Linked DNA regions of Homo sapiens. The protein of the gene in region 1 interacts with the protein of each later gene in a pairwise test. Each region holds a gene or a part of one and is shown in the gene's direction. Other genes may lie near its edges. The genes, in order: UBE2Z, GUK1 and RAPSN.

Evidence for each region.
Region 2: the proteins of UBE2Z (region 1) and GUK1 interact in a two-hybrid assay, tested with the Homo sapiens proteins (one large-scale study listed by IntAct).
Region 3: the proteins of UBE2Z (region 1) and RAPSN interact in a two-hybrid assay, tested with the Homo sapiens proteins (one large-scale study listed by BioGRID and IntAct).

Annotation. Positions count from the first base shown.
Region 1 is NC_000017.11:48,914,907-48,918,406, forward strand, and holds part of UBE2Z (ubiquitin-conjugating enzyme E2 Z), read left to right. Parts: intron 1-1,169; coding exon 1,170-1,281; intron 1,282-3,500. UniProt on the Homo sapiens protein: Catalyzes the covalent attachment of ubiquitin to other proteins. Specific substrate for UBA6, not charged with ubiquitin by UBE1. May be involved in apoptosis regulation.
Region 2 is NC_000001.11:228,138,770-228,142,588, forward strand, and holds the start of GUK1 (guanylate kinase), read left to right. Parts: upstream 1-1,509; 5' UTR 1,510-1,533; coding exon 1,534-1,594; exon of another isoform or gene 1,595-2,864; coding exon of another isoform or gene 2,865-3,060; intron 3,061-3,819. UniProt on the Homo sapiens protein: Catalyzes the phosphorylation of GMP to GDP. Essential enzyme for recycling GMP and indirectly, cyclic GMP (cGMP). Involved in the cGMP metabolism in photoreceptors. It may also have a role in the survival and growth progression of some tumors.
Region 3 is NC_000011.10:47,439,094-47,442,812, reverse strand, and holds part of RAPSN (43 kDa receptor-associated protein of the synapse), read left to right. Parts: coding exon 1-157; intron 158-891; coding exon 892-990; intron 991-1,079; coding exon 1,080-1,202; intron 1,203-1,515; coding exon of another isoform or gene 1,516-1,600; coding exon 1,601-1,654; intron 1,655-2,746; exon of another isoform or gene 2,747-2,807; intron 2,808-3,719. UniProt on the Homo sapiens protein: Postsynaptic protein required for clustering of nicotinic acetylcholine receptors (nAChRs) at the neuromuscular junction. It may link the receptor to the underlying postsynaptic cytoskeleton, possibly by direct association with actin or spectrin.

The DNA of each region.
Region 1 (3,500 bases):
GCTACTCGGGAGGCTGAGGCACAAGAATTGCTTGAACCTGGGAGGCAGAGGTTGCAGTGAGCCAAGATCACGCCACTGCACTCCAGCCTGGGTGACAGAGGGAGACTTTGTCTCAAAAAAGAAAGAAAAGAAAATTCTTAGGTGTTCCTAGTTGACTGTATTAGCTTTATCAGCCATGTTTTTTTTTTCCTCTTTACCTAGAAAACAATGTTGGGCTGACTTACTGACAAAAGAAATTTAACGAGAGTTGACTCTGTTGTAAAGCTTCAGAGAGCAGTAGGTCTAGAGTTCCTGGGGGAGCAAAGCTGAAAAGATAGAGGCACTTAAGAGCAGTCCCCAGTGAAGTTACTATTAGGCATTACTGACTTGGGCTTTCCTCAAGTACAGCAGGGAAACAGAAGCAGGCAGTCAACTTGAACAAGCCAGTCCTGGCTTAGGTTGTGTTCGGCTTCCAGCTCCGGTGCCATCTCTTCAATTAATTGAGCTAAAAATAAATGTCATTAACATCCAAGCTGTCCCCTCCCCCTAATACTTGGTTGGGTTTATGAAAGAGAGGAGCAATTTTGGTATTTGACGTTTTCCATATATTATTTTCAGACCTTCCACTGTCTGGAAGCACCCCTTATTCTCTTCCTGTTCTTTGGAAGAGTTGTGTAGTCTTAAGAGAATTTGACACTCCTTGGGGGTTTGATACAGAACTGGATCCCCAATAGCCCCACCACATGGCCTCTAACCAGATGGCTTCAGTCACCTGTGTCCCTTTATGCTCAACTTCCCTCTCCCCTCACTAACTCCATCACCACCCATAAACAAGCTCTTTGAGATCCACGGAGATTAACATTTAGACAACTTTGGAGCTAATTGCTTACCTAATTTCTTTTGTTTTGATTGTCGTAACTGTTTCTAGTACAAAGAAAATCCCTTCAAAGTTACATAGCTTGCTATTACCTGTTCTTTTGCCCCCCCCCCTTGATTTGAGGATTAGGCAATTGACTGATTTCTGGTGAAATCAGAACATGAGCATGAGACAGAGGCTGGGAAATTCCAGAGTATTAATAGTGAAAGAGAAACTTATGGTGAGTCACTTATGGTGGTGTTGCCGGGCCCCAGGGTACTTGTTCCCTATTCTTTCTCTGCCTCACCCTCCATTCCTTCTGATGTGTTTACAGTACATGGACTGGACCTGCCTGGAGCCCAGCCCAGAGCATCTCCTCAGTGCTCATCTCTATCCAGTCCCTGATGACTGAGAACCCCTATCACAATGAGCCCGGCTTTGAACAGGTAAGGCCAGATGGGCCTGGCTCTGGGGTGTAGACTATTGTTTTTGTTTGTTTGGTTGGTTGGTTTTTTTGTTTTTTTTTTTTTTTGAGACAGAGTCTTCCTCTGTCACCTAGGCTGTAGTGCAGTGGTGCAATCTCAGCTTACTGCAACCTCCGCCTCCCGGGTTCAAGCCATTCTGTCTCAGCCTCCCAAGTAGCTGGGACTACAGGCGTGTACCACCATGCCTGGCTAATTTTTATATTTTTAGTAGAGATGGGGTTTCACCATATTGGCCAGGCTGGTCTCCAGCTCCTGACCTGGTGATCCGCCTGCCTCGGCCTCCCAGAGTGCTGGGATTACAGGCGTGAGCCACCGCGCCCAGCCAGAATAGTGTTTTAAGAGATCTGCTTGGGAGGTTTTTTTTGTTTTGTTTTGTTTTGTTTTGTTTTGGACCTAGCACAGCCCCATGTACTACATTTGTTGGTATAGGGAAAAAAAGGGAATTGACACGTGTTTTTTAGTAATGAAATTTTTTGCCGACCACTGTGGCTCACACCTGTAATCCCAGCACTTTGGGAGGCTGAGGCAGGCAGGTGGATCACCTGAGGTCAGGAGTTTGAGACCAGCCTGGCCAACCTGGTAAAACCCCATCTCTACTAAAAATTAACTGGTCAGAAGTTTGAGACCAGCCTGGCCAACATGGTGAAAACCTGTCTCTACTAAAAATAAAAGAAATTAGCTGGGTGTGATCACTTGAACCCTGGAGGCAGAGGTTGCAGTGAGCTGAGATCACGCCATTACACTCCAGCCTGGGTAAGGAGCGAAACTCGGTCCCCCCACCCCCAAAAAAATAATAATGGCCAGGCGCGGTGGCTCACACCTGTAATCCCAGCACTTTGGGAGGCCGAGGCGGGCAGATCACAAGGTCAGAAGTTTGAGATCATCCTGGCTAACACAGTGAAACCCAGTCTGTACTAAAAATACAAAAAATTAGCTGGGTGTGGTGGCAGGCGCCTGTAGTCCCAGCTACTCGGAGGCTGAGACAGGAGAATGGCGTGAACCCAGGTGGTGGAGCTTACAGTGAGCCAAGATTGGGCCATTGCATTCCAGCCTGAGCGACAGAGCGAGACACCGTCTTAAAAAAATAATAATAATAATGAATTTTTTTATTTGTGAGAGTTACAATAAGTATGTGACTTGGATTCCTTTATAGCATGGAAGTCAATGGACTCCTTTGGAAATTAATTCTGACCTGCTTTGGGGGTTGTGGCATCCAGTGGGTTCTATGTGCCTATATTCTCAGCATCCCCTAAAGTTGCTCTGTAGGGACTACTACCCAGCCAGCTGTTCTTCTGGGGTTATGAAGGACTGTTACCTGCAGAGTCAAAGGAGCTAGTCATTAGGAGTCCCGGGCAAGACTTTTTGAGTTAACAGTGCCAACGAGAAGGTGGAGAAAACTCACATTTTTCCAAGAGCATGCTCTGTGCTGGACACTACCAAGTTTTTATATATAATTTCTTGTTTAACCTTCATACTATGTGAGGTTAAATATGGTTATTCCCATTTTCAAGTGAAATAATGTTGCCTCAGAGAGGTTAATTAACTTTCACAAAGACACACAGATCAGGATAGGACCCCAGACTTACATTGGAGCCCAACTTCTCCCACTCTTCCGATGTGCCTTCCTGAATTACTCATGAGCACGGGAAAAAGTTCCAGTGATAGTCCCAAAAGAAAATGATTCCGGATAGGTGATTAGAACAGCTTAATTAATTTATTTATTTTTTGAGACAGAGTTTCACTATTGTTACCCAGGCTGGAGTGTAATGGCACAATCTCGGCTCACAGCAACTTCTGCCTCCCAGGTTCAAGTGATTCCTCTGCCTCAGCCTCCCGAGTAGCTGGGATTACGGGCACGCACCACCACACCTGGCTAATTTTTTGTATTTTTAGTAGAGAAGGGGTTTCACCATCTTGGCCAGGCTGGTTTCGAATTTCGGACCTCAGGTGATCCACTCGCCTTGGCCTCTGAAAGTGCTGGGATTACAGGCGTGAGCAACCATGCCTGGCCAACTTAATTTATTTTTAAACTATTACATATGACACCAACTTTGATTCTTCCTCTATAGACCTGAACAAAGGATAATAAAATGCCTTTCAAAAATGAAAAATAAAAATTTTTTTTGAGACAGAGTCTCACTCCATCACTCAGGCTGGAGTGCAGTGGTGTGATCTCGGCT
Region 2 (3,819 bases), on another chromosome or scaffold:
GCCCAGCCCCAACACATTTTTTTGAAGTTGTATTTTTTAAAGTTTTACTTTTTTTCTTGCTCTCCTGCAGTTCACATTCAATACTTTTTTTTTTTTTTTTTGAGACGGAGTCTCATTCTGTCGTCTAGGCTGGAGTGCCGTGGCTTGATCTCGGCTCACTGCAACCTCCACCTCCCAGGTTCAAGTGATCCTCCTGCCTCAGCCACCCCAGTAGCTGGAATTACAGGGGCCCACGACCACACCCAGCTGATTTTGTATTTTTAGTAGAGACAGAGTTTCACCATTTTGGCCAGGCTAGTCCCAAACTCCTGGCCTCAGGTGATCTGCCTGCCTCGGACTCCCAAAGTGCTGGCATTACAGGTGTGAGCCACTGCACCCAGCCTTCAATAAATCTTTTTTAAAAATTTAAAATAATTTTTAGAAATAGAGTCCCGTGGCCAGGTGCAGTGGCTCACGCCTGTAATCCCAGCACTTTGGGAGGCCAAGGTTGGTGGATTACCTGAGGTTAGGAGTTCAAGACCAGCCTGGCCAACATGGTGAAACCCTGTCTCTACTAAAAATACAAAAATTAGCTGGGCGTGGTGGCGGGCGCCTGTAATCCCAGCTACTCGGGAGGCTGAGGCAGGAGAATCGCTTGAACCTAGGAGGCCCAGGTTGCAGTGAGCAGAGATGGCGTCACTGAACTCCAGCCTGGGTGACAAGAGCGAAACTCCGTCTCAAAAAATAAAAAAAGAAAGAAATAGGGTCTCGCTCTGTCACACAGACTGGAGTGCAGTGACACGAACACCGCTCACTGCAGCCTCGACTGCCCAGGCTCAAGCGACCGTCCCACGTCAGCCTCCCGAGTAGCAAGGACTACAGGCACAAAAAAGTTTTTAAATTTTTTGGTACAGAAGGGGTTTCCCTATGATCCCCAGGCTGGTCTCCAATTCCTGGCCTCAAGCGGTCCTCCCGGCTCGGACTCCCAAAGAGCTGGGATCACAGACGTGAACCACGCGCCCGGCCACATTCCCCAATTAATGGTTTTTGGAGAGTGGCCGGTTTGGAACGGGCTAGCGGAGTCGTTCGTTAGTTAGGTCCCTGCAGTGTAGATGGAGGACGGAAACGGCGCTGTGACATAAGCGGGAGGAGGCGGGCTGAGGCAGCGCTGTGACGTAGCAGATGAAAGCCGGGCCCGCGCTGCACTGAGGTACTTCTCTGAGTGACAAGCGGGACAAGTACGCCGTGGGCGGGGCCGGCGGGTCGTGATGTTAGTTCGCGCTGTGTGGAGGCGGGCCGGCGTGGCGCTGTGACGCAGCGGGAGAAGACGGGCTGGGAGGGCGCTGTGCTGAACGCCCCTGCGGTCGCGACAGGCCAGCGCAGGTGGAGGCGGGGCTAGCGAGGCACTGAGGTAAGTACTTCCCTAAGGGGCGGGGAAGAACGAGTGAGACATGGGCGGGGCAGTCGCCTCATGACGTCAGTCTCGCGCGCGGGCGGAGGTGGGCCGGTGCGGCGCTGTCACGTAGGTTCAGTGGGCGGAAGAGGTGGCCCCGGATGCTGCGGCGCCCGCTGGCCGGGCTGGCTGCGGCCGCCCTGGGCCGGGCCCCACCGGACGGTGAGTACGACAAGCGCGATCGCGAGGGTGACTCGGGTCGAGGCGGCAGCGGTCCCTGCGCTTTGCGGTCGCCCAGTCCACGCCGCCTCCGGATCTCCTCCTAGCCGAGACGCCCTGTGCCGCATTCAACTGTGGGCCCTGAGAACGGGGGAGCTCTGGAGGGCGGACGGGCTGGCAACGCAGCGGAGCCCGGGTCCCGGAGGGCGGGGCGCTCCTCAGGAGCTGGGCAGGCCGGCAGTTATCGCAGTGTCGAGCTGCTCCCCGGGCGTATAGGAGCGCTCGGTGTCTTCCCGACACCTGGGCGCGCCGCCAAAGAGAGCAGCTGGGAGTCCCTACCGCTGGCCCGGCGCGGTGTGCGCTCCGGTTCCCACCTCACCCTGCAAGCCTTGGGGTCCTGGGCGGATGGAGCCGGCTATTCCGGGGCTCCCAGGATTCTGCCTACTCCGCGGCACGGCGCAGAGACGGGGACTTGGGGAAACAGCAGGCCTTCCCGACGCATGGGTGTGGCATTTGGGGTTCGGATTCTCCAAAGCCAGAGTCCGGGTTGGGGTTCTTGAAGCTGCCCTGCTGCCATTCTTGAGCGTCGCCTTAGAAGTATGCCCCAGTAAGGACTGGTGTGGGAAGCAGGTGCCTCAAAGTTGATTTTGACCCTGCGTGTGGTGGGCCTCGGTTTCGTCTTTGCATGAAAGAGGTCGGTCCTGAGGCCCCGGGCTGGGTCCTGCTCTGCTGTCTTTGGGCTCATGGCCCCTTCCTGTCTCAGGCTTGCTCTGCTCTTTACCTGGGGTTGCTGTCGAGGACCCTGTGCAAGACTCGGCCGGTTTTTCTTTCTCCCTGATGGACAGACCCAAACATAGCCGCGCAGCATCGTGAAGGGCTGGGGCCTTCACTCCTCTGTGGCTCTGGAAGAGCCCGATTTCCTCAGGAGGTAAAGGAATGTTCCTGTCCCCCCCGGGGAAAGAAAGTGAAAATGAAAGCGCCCTGGCTGCTCCTGGTGTGGTCCCATTTAAAACGAGGTTGCTGAAGGCCAGGATGCGTGCTACCCGGATGTGTGCCCAGAAACCCTGCAGCCAAGAGCAGCCGCCTGGACCACCAGCCTCCCCTTCATCCACCTGGCCCAGCCCAGAGCCCAGGCCCACGTCTGGTGGTTTGTGTCTTACGAGAGGCCAGGCGGGGGCTGAATTCTCTCGGTTCTCAGAAGGTCAAGCCCTCTGTTAGCATCTCCTCGAACAGTGGGCCGGGGGCAAGGTGGTGACTCTGTTCAGTCCTTAGGATGGCTGGAAGCCAGAAGGAGGAGATTATGCCGCCACAGCAGGGAGTGCCTTTCCAGGAAAGCGGCTGCTGGGGCAGCATGGGAGCCCAGTCCAGGGAGCGTTCTGGCAGAGACCATTCCGGAACATGGATCTGCGCCGGCGGCTCCCAGGAGACCTTCCATCTCGGAGCTCCTGTGGAGACCACGTGCCTGGCAGGTCCTTACAGTTGTGGGTTGTGTGGCTTCTTGCCAGGCAGCTGATTGGAGTTTGCGACTGTGGGTTGGTGAGAGTGGAGAGCACAGAATGTTTGCTGGAATGCTTCCCTCTGCCCACAGGAAGACACCTTTGGCGCATGTGTTCTGGTCAGGGCAAAGGCTCCGTGGTTTCCACCGCAAGATTGCAGGAGCCTTGAGGCCTGGGCCACAGTTTTCTCCCTTGGGTGTGCTCCATGGAAGGTGGCTTTGGTGACCGCCCTGCCACTGGTCTCTCCCCAGGCAGGCAGGCAGCCTGTGCCTCCGCCCTGTCTCCAGCGGTGGTGGTGTGGCTGTGCTTCTGCAAGGCCCGCATCCACTCACTGTCTGCCCTCTGCACTCTCTGGCTGGCCAGGGCCCCCAGTAGTCTGCTCATTGTGCCCTCACGCTTGGGCAGAGCCGAACTCAGGGGACCCAGGAAGAGCGGAGTGTTGGCCCGTCCAGAGTTCTTGGCAATTGGTGTGTCATGTGTGCCTCGTGCCCTGTGCTGGGCGAGAGTGGGCACAGCTGCGCAGACAACGCCCTTGGCGAGGCTGGAGCCTGGACCCCTGCCTGGCAGCAGCTGGGTGAACTGGTGTCTTCTGCCTGCGGGCCCAGCCTCACCTCAATAGCTTACTGCTCCCTCAGGAGGGAGGAGGGGAGGCCTGGGAGCCTGGGCTTGGCGGGGTAAGGGTGGTGCAGGGGCAACACCTGTGGAGGAAACAGGCGGGGTTGGGGCCCACCA
Region 3 (3,719 bases), on another chromosome or scaffold:
CTACGAGAAAGCCCTGTTCTTCCCCTGCAAGGCGGCAGAGCTTGTCAACAACTATGGCAAAGGCTGGAGCCTGAAGTACCGGGCCATGAGCCAGTACCACATGGCCGTGGCCTATCGCCTGCTGGGCCGCCTGGGCAGTGCCATGGAGTGTTGTGAGGTGGGGCAGCGGGGAAGGGGGCAGGTCGGGGATGAGGTGGTGTGGGCCAGGGGCTGGGGCCTGGGACAGCAGGGCTTCCTTCTTCCAAATCAGCCCATGGAAGCCCCCTAGGGCTTGCCTCTGGCCCAGCCTCTCTAAAGGCGTGCACCACCATGCACAGCTAATTTTATTTTTGTAGAGACGGGGTCTCACTAAACCACCCTCCTGTGCTGAAGCGATCCTCGTGTCTTGGCCTCCCAAAGTGCTGGGATTCCAGGCATGAGCCACTTGTGCCTGGCCCAGTTTTTATTTTTTAAATGAGATGAGTTCTCTACAGCTGAACCCCTGAAGGAAACATTTGTCCCCCAGCCTCATCCCAAACCCACTCCCTTCCAATCCATCTGCAGGGGAGGGGGCTTCCTTCTGCCCCAACACCCTATATGGGGTACTTTGAAGGGTAGAGACGGAAGAGGGCCAGTTTCTGGAGTCCCACTGACCTGGGTTCACATCCCAGCTTTGTCACTTACTGGGTGACCCCAATCAAGTCACTTCTCTTTGAGCCTCACTTTCCACCCACCTTGCTGGGTGCTGTGACTTCAGTGGTTCAGTGTGTGAGCCCTCAGCACCATGATAGATTCACTAGGCTCTGAGGATGTTGCTTCCCTGGGCTGTCCCTTCAGAGGGGTCTGTTGAGGGGAGGGCACTCCAGTGGTGGTGGCAGAGGAGTAGGCCTGAGCCACTGGCCTCCCTCGCAGGAGTCTATGAAGATCGCGCTGCAGCACGGGGACCGGCCACTGCAGGCGCTCTGCCTGCTCTGCTTCGCTGACATCCACCGGAGCCGTGGGGACCTGGAGGTGAGGTCACCGGGATGCAGGGGCTGGGGGCAGGGGGCAGGGGCACAGGCCTGATACAGCCTGATTCCATCCCCCACCTGGCTCTGCAGACAGCCTTCCCCAGGTACGACTCCGCCATGAGCATCATGACCGAGATCGGAAACCGCCTGGGGCAGGTGCAGGCGCTGCTGGGTGTGGCCAAGTGCTGGGTGGCCAGGAAGGCGCTGGACAAGGTGAGGTCGGGCCTTTCCCACAGCCTCCAGCCCTCCCAGCACTCCCCACTTGGGGCCAGTAGGTTAGCCGGCTCTTTCAGCCACTTTGTCTGACGTCAGCCTCACCCTGATCCTACGAGGCCAGGACATTCCTGGTCATTTTCCAGGCTCAGAGAAGGCCCATCACTTGCCCTAGGACCCACAGCTAGTAAAGGGCTGGAACCCTGGGTAAACTGAGGCAGGAGGTCACTTGCCCACACAGCCCCTATGACTGTGCCCTAGTCTCTTCCTGCTGCCTTCACACACAAGGCAGCTGCCATGTCACCCTCCCTAGGCCTGCCCCCCTACCCTGTGCTTCCCTGTGAGCAAGGCCTGTCAGACAGCTCTGCCCGCAGCCCTGGCCTATGCTCACCTTCCAGGCTCTGGATGCCATCGAGAGAGCCCAGGATCTGGCCGAGGAGGTGGGGAACAAGGTCAGACTTGATTCTGTGTCCTGGATCTGGGGTCAAGGGCCCAAGTGGGGAACTTGGGTCTGGGGAAGGGCCTTCCTGAGCCTACTCACGTCATGAGCCCTTCCTGATGCTGGGAGCTGCCTGCAGCCAACCCCATACTCTGGCTCTTTCTCTGCCACACACACAGCACTTCTGAGGGCAGGGCAGAAGTTTCATAGCTTGGAGGATAGCAGAATTCCTCAGAAGCTTCCTGATGTTGATTAAAACCCCTAACAGTGGGCTGGACATGGTGGCTCACATCTATAATCCTAGAATTTTGGGAGGCCGAGGTAGGAGGATCACTTGAGCCCAGAAGTTCGAGAGCAGCCTGGGCTACATAATGAGACCCATGCTCTAAAAAAGAAAAGAAAAGAAAAGAAAAAAACATTTTTGAGATTGAGTTTTGCTCTTGTCTCCCAGGCTGGAGTGCAATAGCGCGATCCCAGCTTACTGCAACCTCTGCCTCCCAGGTTGAAGTGATTCTCCTGCTTCAGCCTCCTGAGTAGCTGGGATTATAGGCACCCGCCACCACACTGGGCTAATTTTTGTATTTTTTATAGAGATGGGGATTCACTGCGTTGGCCAGGCTTGTCTGAAACTCCTGACCTCAGGTGATCCACCTGCCTCGGCCTCCCAAAGTGCTGGGATTACAGGCATGAGCCACCAGGCCCGGCCTCTACAAAAAATGTTTTAAAATTAGCCAGCTGTTGTGGCACACACCTGAGGTCCCAACTACTTGGGAGGCTGAGGTGGGAGGATAGCTTGAGCCCAGGAGGTCAAGGCTGCAGTGAGCTGTGATTGCTCCACTGCACTCCAGCCTGGGTAACAGAGTGAGACCTTATCTCAAAACAAACAAAAACTAACAGTGGCCTCCACTCCCTGAGCACTGAGCACACACAGGGTCCTTATGGGTACTGGGTCCAGTCCTCACTCTCTCCCTGTGAGGTGAGTACAGCAAGCCCCATTTTACAGATGAGGAAAAGTGAGGCTCAAAGAGGCGTCCAAGGTCCCACACCTACTAACTTGTCTGTTTTAACTACAAAGCCCATGTTCCAAATTTAATAATGGTATCTAGTGCTTGCTTTGGCAGCCCATATTCTGAAATTGGAACAATACAGAGAAGATTAGCATGGCCTAAAAACCAAAACCAAGGCCGGGTGCGGTGGCTCACACCTGCATTTTGGGAGGCCGAGGTGGGCAGATCACCTGAGATCAGCCTGACCAACATGGTGAAACTCTGTCTCTACTAAAAATACAAAAATTAGCCAGGTGTGGTAGTGCACGCCTGTAATCCCAGCTGCTTGGGAGGCTGAGGCAGGAGAATCACTTGAACCCGGGAGGTGGAGGTTGCCATGAACCAAGATTGTGCCACTGTACTCCAGCCTGGGTGACAGAGCAAGACTCCATCTAAAAAAAAAAAAAAAAAAATCGTCATAATCTTATTAAAACCTTAAAATCTTGAAAACAGGTTCACCACTTCTCAAAGCCTTCCAGATGTGCATTTCTACGAGATCCTGTGCACAGTCCAACCAAAATGCCAAAATTTGGTTGGATTATAGCCACTCTGGTTTACCTGGGTATCAGGCTGATCAGAAATGCTGATGAGCTATTGTGTGTATATTTAATTAATAAAAACAGGAAAGCAGATTAATTATTATTTTTTTTTGAGACGGAGTTTCACTATTAGAGCCCAGGCTGGAGTGCAGTGGTGCGATTTCGGCTTACTGCAACCTCCGCCTCCTGGGTTCAAGCGATTCTCCTGCCTCAGTCTCCTGAGTAGCAGGGATTACAGGCACTCACCACCACCCCCGGCTAATTTTTGTATTTTTAGTAGAGATGGGGTTTCGCCATGTTGGCCAGGCTGGTCTCGAACTCCTGGCCTCAGGTGATCCACCTGCCTCGGCCTCCCCAAGTGCTGGGATTACAGGCATGAGCCACGGCGCCCTGCCGCAAATTATTATGGAGTCTGTGCACCAGGTTTGGTCATAAAATCTGTCAAAAACATGGGGTCTCCAGGCAGTTCTGGGGGGTGAAGTCTTCTGATCTC